2 separate regions of the Homo sapiens genome follow, and region 2 is linked to region 1. The links come from fine-mapping of genetic effects on gene expression. Tissue or cell type: hypothalamus. Region 1 holds a variant in brackets; the other region holds the start of a gene. All regions are shown on one strand. Distances are from middle to middle.

The links. PIP is the estimated chance that this variant, and not a neighbour inherited with it, causes the effect.
Region 2: NAPRT starts here. The variant in region 1 is fine-mapped to the expression of NAPRT in hypothalamus (GTEx, PIP 0.96).

What each region holds. Positions count from the first base shown.
Region 1 is chr8:142,819,127-142,821,876 of GRCh38, reverse strand. No RefSeq gene overlaps it. Among named protein-coding and RNA genes, the nearest start is that of GML, 14 kb to the left of the region's middle. The variant G/A (reference allele first, on the strand shown) is at 1,746.
Region 2 is chr8:143,576,850-143,579,599 of GRCh38, reverse strand. NAPRT (nicotinate phosphoribosyltransferase) reads left to right here and starts at 1,270. Exons shown (of 13, transcript NM_145201.6): 1 at 1,270-1,507; 2 at 1,657-1,784; 3 at 1,861-1,943; 4 at 2,201-2,331; 5 at 2,423-2,538. The coding sequence starts at 1,282. RefSeq lists enhancers at 46-954, 955-1,862.

The DNA.
Region 1 (2,750 bases):
ACACAACCTCATACAGGCTGTAGTGTGGAAGCCTTACCTGCTTCCTGCCTGCAACCCCAGAGACCTGCCAGGGTCCCAGTGTTAGGACAAGCCCCAGCCCACATGCCAGCCCAGCCTCTGCGGCAGAATCAGCAAGGTGGTGCTTTCCACAGACATTCCAGCCTCCAGAGGCGTCTACAGGCCCCCTGGGCCCAAAGGCTCACAGAGCCCTCTAAGCACCGGGCTCTGGGCTGAGTCCTGCAAGCTCAGGGAAAGCGCTTCCCTTCTGCTGAGTGGACTCAGCACATTGGGGGTGGCCTTCCACTGCGAGAGGTGGAGCAATGGGACCTGAGGCCACTGGCATGTGTCCACTGAGGAGCGGCCTGCCTTCTCCCTCGCTGACTGGGTGGGGAGCCTGAGCTCACAGATGCAGAGCTCTGGAAATAGAGACCCTCAGAGCCATGCTGGTGATGCCACCCGAGGGCCTCCTCAACGCCGGCCCCTGCTGGCATCCTCCAAGCTGCAGGAGGAAGAGATCCAAGGGTAATCTCATACCTGCTTGACCCGCTTTGTCCCCAGCCGATGCCCTCTCCCAACCTGGCAAAGGGGTATGAACTCAACATCTAGGCCCAGCAGAGGAGCTCCACACCCCCGCAGGTATGACCTTGCCTGTCCCTTTGCTCTCCCAGGTCCTAGTAAGGCTCTGCACCTGGACTGGGCAGGAACGGCCTTCTGCAGGCTGGCCTTGCTGGATGGCCCTGCACCCTCCCTCTGGGCTCCTGCACCCTACGCTGCTGCCCCCACCTGGGCTGTAAACCCTGCCCCTTGTGTCTCAGCCATCCCTTCTGACCGACCTTGCTGTGGGCAGGCTCTCACGGGGTCCTTCTGCACATACAGGATTTGGCCCAGCCCCGGCATAGGGCCCAGCCAGCCTGTCTATGACATGGGGCAGGGGGGAGGGGAGGGAATGAATGAATGGCTGAACCAAGGACCCACCATGGGCAGGACTAAGCTGTAGGGAGGCAGCACTGCCCTGCTTCTAGGGATCTTAGGCTCCAGAGTCAGGTGCAGAGCCTGCAGGGCGTCTTGGCTTCTGACCCTAAGGGATGCAGGCGTGGCCTTCCCTTCATGGGTGAGGTTGTATCTGGAAGATAAAGCAGAGGTTTGCAGGGTGGGCCCTAAGAAGGCCATCGGGGAGGCTGGGCACCGGTCCAGCTTGCACCTAGGGACACGACAGCTCCACACCCACTTATCCCCAAAGCCAAAAGAACCCCAGGAATTCAGGGACAAGAGGGCTCTGGGTGGAGTCACGGGAGGCTTCCTGGAGGAGGCAGAGGAGAGAATCTGAGGAGAGGGTAGAATGAGGGAGACCTGCAGGCAGGGCACAGCCAGTGGCAGTGGCAGGCGCCTGAGCTTGGCCAGCATCCAGGCATGGGTGCTGTGGGACTCACTGTGATAGGAGTGTGCTCTGGTTACCTGTGAGCCAGGCTTTCCTGGGGGTGGGCTGTGGAAATGCCCGGAGGGGTTCCAAGGCCCATGAGGGCTGGAGGCTGGGGTAGGCAGGCTTTGCGGCGTGAGCTGGTGAAGAGGCACCCCTGCCAAGATACTCACCGCTCCACACTACCTCCTGCCTCAGTTTCCCCAAGGTGCTCAGGACAGGAAGCACAACTGCTCAGAAGAAAGCCCTCCTGAGGTGGTCCCTCTGTGAGCAGACGTGCTGTCCGGCAGACCACATCCTGCCCTCAGGGCCCTTGGCAGACAGGGCC[G/A]GCTCTCCACCTGGCAGACCCACCCAGGTACCCACTCGCCAGCCCTGGGTCACACCCTTGGTCCAGGGGGTGTGCGCCCGGCCTCCCCTAGATGTTTTGGCCTTGCCTACAGAGGTCGCAGTCCCTTCGGGAAACTCCTGAATTTGTCGCAACTGGGTAGAGTCCATCTCTGTACTCTCCTCCCACCAGTGGGCAGCATCCCACCTCTACCCCTTCGGTGAGTCGTGCCTCTGGCCCTTCGGTGAGTTGTGGCCATGGTCCAGCTGCCCGTGTGGCCAGCGACGGTCATTCAGCAATGGCGACGGCTGTGTCTGAGGGTCCCACAGAAGTGTGAGGGGGGATGCCACTCCAGGGGTCGCCAGCAGGCAGCAAGTGTGGGTGGCCTCACAGAGCCTGTTCCGTTTAGGAAATTCTCTCCAGAATACTCCTGGAGAGGCCGCAACACCCACCCCAGCTCTTAGCCACGTCCTCCTCCTGCCCATCTCCCCCAGGGCTTCCCCTAGCCAACCTGTACGACTCCTGTCTCCTGGCCCAGGAGGCAGCTGGGGTCTCTGGGGACAGCCTGATGGGCTCTGCCTTACCCTCCCCAGGCCTGTGAGGGGCACGGGGACTGTCCTGGCCCACCCTGGGCTGTGCCACGGTTCCCAAGACTGTGCAGCCTCTGTGGCTGCCTGCTTCCCTCAAGGGTCTTTCTTAGCTGGGCTACAGGGAACAGGACACTTAGCCGTTTGCTTCCCAGAAGCCCAGCAGAGGCTTGGGGGCCCAGCGCTGTCGGCAGCCTCCTCCTCAGTACAACTGCCCCTTGGGACCCAGCCCCTCTCAGTTCTCCCACCCCTTCTCGCTCCCAAACTGCGCAGCTCTTGGCACCCCCTTCTTACCACCCCCAGCACTTGGCAAACACTTCTAGAGGAGGCCTTTGCTAAAAGGAGTCTGGGCCATGGGTCGGCACGGCCCTGTGGCGTCCATCAGAGCAGCCCTGGCTGTGGGCTCCTCTCCCTCTTGCTG
Region 2 (2,750 bases), 760 kb before region 1:
CTTGCCCCCAGCAGACCTCCGCCTGTCCCTCCATCTCCTGGCCACTCCCTCCCAAAGCTCTGGCCCTCCCTCTTCTTTCCATTGCAAAAGCAAGTCCAGTTCAGGGGGTTTAAAAAGCCAGAAACAGAAACTGTTAGGTCACTATCTGGAGAGGCCACCACCCCACCACTCTGCCTCCTGTTGGCATTGTCCCCATGGGAGCAAGCGTGCAAGCCTGGAATTGTCCAGGAAAGAAGTCCCAGTAGCACCCGGCCCTGCTGCCATGCCCTTTGTCATGTGCTGTCCCGGCCCTCCCCTCACCTCATTCATTCCTGGAATCCCTGCCCCTTGCTCCAGGGACTGTGCCCCTCCCATGATGTTCTGGGGTGGCCAGAACGTGGCTGCCTGGGCTCTGTGGAGCTGTGCCTCAGCATCCTGACAGCCGTATGTGGTCAGCATGGGTGGCCACACTCCCTCCCCTGGACCACCCGTGTTTGCATTGGGGTGAAAGAGGATGGGGTGTAATTACTTGATTACTTCTGGTCAGACTCTGTCCTCGGGGCCCCAAGCCACAGGGGAATGGATTCTCCCTGGGTAGTGGCCCCTGACTTTGCCCTCAAACCTTTAGAAAGTTTCCTGTGGGGCTTGGACTGCAGGACCCCATAAAAGCCACCACTGAGGGACACTGGGCCTTCATAGCCACAAAAGGTCTTTTGGTGCCAGCCGACAGTGGGCATGCGCCCCCCTGCCCCACGCCGCCCTTTCCTGGGTGCCAAGCTCTTTCCAAGCGACATTTGCGTCCATCTGGGCTGCCTCGTCCTAGCCTGGCTGCTCAAGCTCTAACTAAGGCAGCCTCTGGCCTCCCTCCCCAGGCCCAGGGCAGGAGCTGGCTGCTGGCCAGCGGTTGTCTTCTGGGTCGGTGGGGGTGGAGTCTGGCTGGTCTGTCCTCCACCCTTTCCGCCGCCTGGCAAGTCCTGAGCTGCACCTCATTGCCCGGCCAAAGGGCAGAGACACGAGCGACTGGGGGCACCTCTGGTGACCAAGACCGGGCTGCGCTCCAAAGAGGCCGTTGGGCCTGGAGTGGGGTTGGGGGGTCCGAGAGGAGTTGGGTGACATCCCCCACCCCATCCCGGGTCCAGCTGTTTCAGCCCCTCTCGGCGCGCCGATACTATTAGCCCCACCCGTCCTCCATCGAGTCCCGTGCCGCTCCCAAACGGCACGATAAGCCCCACAGGGAGTGCGCCATAGGCCGGGGCGCGTCACGGGGTCGGGGCGGGGCGGAGTCCGGACGTCGGGAGCAGGATGGCGGCGGAGCAGGACCCCGAGGCGCGCGCGGCGGCGCGGCCGCTGCTCACTGACCTCTACCAGGCCACCATGGCGTTGGGCTATTGGCGCGCGGGCCGGGCGCGGGACGCCGCCGAGTTCGAGCTCTTCTTCCGCCGCTGCCCGTTCGGCGGCGCCTTCGCCTTGGCCGCCGGCTTGCGCGACTGTGTGCGCTTCCTGCGCGCCTTCCGCCTGCGGGACGCCGGTAGTCCCCCGTCCGCGCGACGAGCCCCCCACGCCCGGCAGAAACCCCCACCTATGGCCGGTGGAAGTCCTTGTCCCCCCGTGGAACCCCCCATGTCCCACGACCGGTCTGTCCCCGCGCTGGTCTCAGCGCAGTTACCTCGTTTCCAGACGTGCAGTTCCTGGCCTCGGTGCTGCCCCCAGACACGGATCCTGCGTTCTTCGAGCACCTTCGGGCCCTCGACTGCTCCGAGGTGACGGTGCGAGCCCTGCCCGAGGGCTCCCTCGCCTTCCCCGGAGTGAGTAGGGGTAAGCGGGCGGCGCGGCGGCCACGGGGTGCTGGGCCGAGCGCGGAGCTGACTTCTCTCCCCGCAGGTGCCGCTCCTGCAGGTGTCCGGGCCGCTCCTGGTGGTGCAGCTGCTGGAGACACCGCTGCTCTGCCTGGTCAGCTACGCCAGGTGGGCTGCGGGCCACTGGCAGGGAGCGTGGGCATGGGATGGGCCCCCAGCGCCGGGGCTCCGTGCTGGACTGTGGCGGCGGGGCTGGCTGCCCAGGGGTCCCAGGACTGGCCTCCCGCCCCCACTCTTCAGGGTGTAAGGAGGGGCTGGGTGAGGGTGGAGCTCCCAGGTTGGAAGTTCCAGGCCCCAGGTAACCGCCGTCTTGGGTGGCCTAGTGATCCTCACCCTGGGACCCCCTGACTCTTGGCTCCCCACAGCCTGGTGGCCACCAACGCAGCGCGGCTTCGCTTGATCGCAGGGCCAGAGAAGCGGCTGCTAGAGATGGGCCTGAGGCGGGCTCAGGGCCCCGATGGGGGCCTGACAGCCTCCACCTACAGCTACCTGGGCGGTGAGTGTCTGGTGCGGGGCAAGGCAAGGGCCGGGAAGGAGGAGCCCCATCTTGGCCCGAGGTCCCCCAATCCCACCGCCTTCCTCCCCAGGCTTCGACAGCAGCAGCAACGTGCTAGCGGGCCAGCTGCGAGGTGTGCCGGTGGCCGGGACCCTGGCCCACTCCTTCGTCACTTCCTTTTCAGGCAGCGAGGTGCCCCCTGACCCGGTCAGTCCCTCCTCTAAACCCTGCTGTCTCCAGGCGACAGGCCCCAAGCCAGCCCTTGCCCTGGCGAGAGGTGTGCCACCCAGGCAGGTCACCCCAGTGCTGTCCCAGGAAGCTGGCACGGGCTGCATTACCTTTGCTCTCAAACTAGGGTGTCCCTGGCTGCTCCCAGGCCTCATCCTGCATTCCTGGCCCCCATTCTTCACCGACTCTGT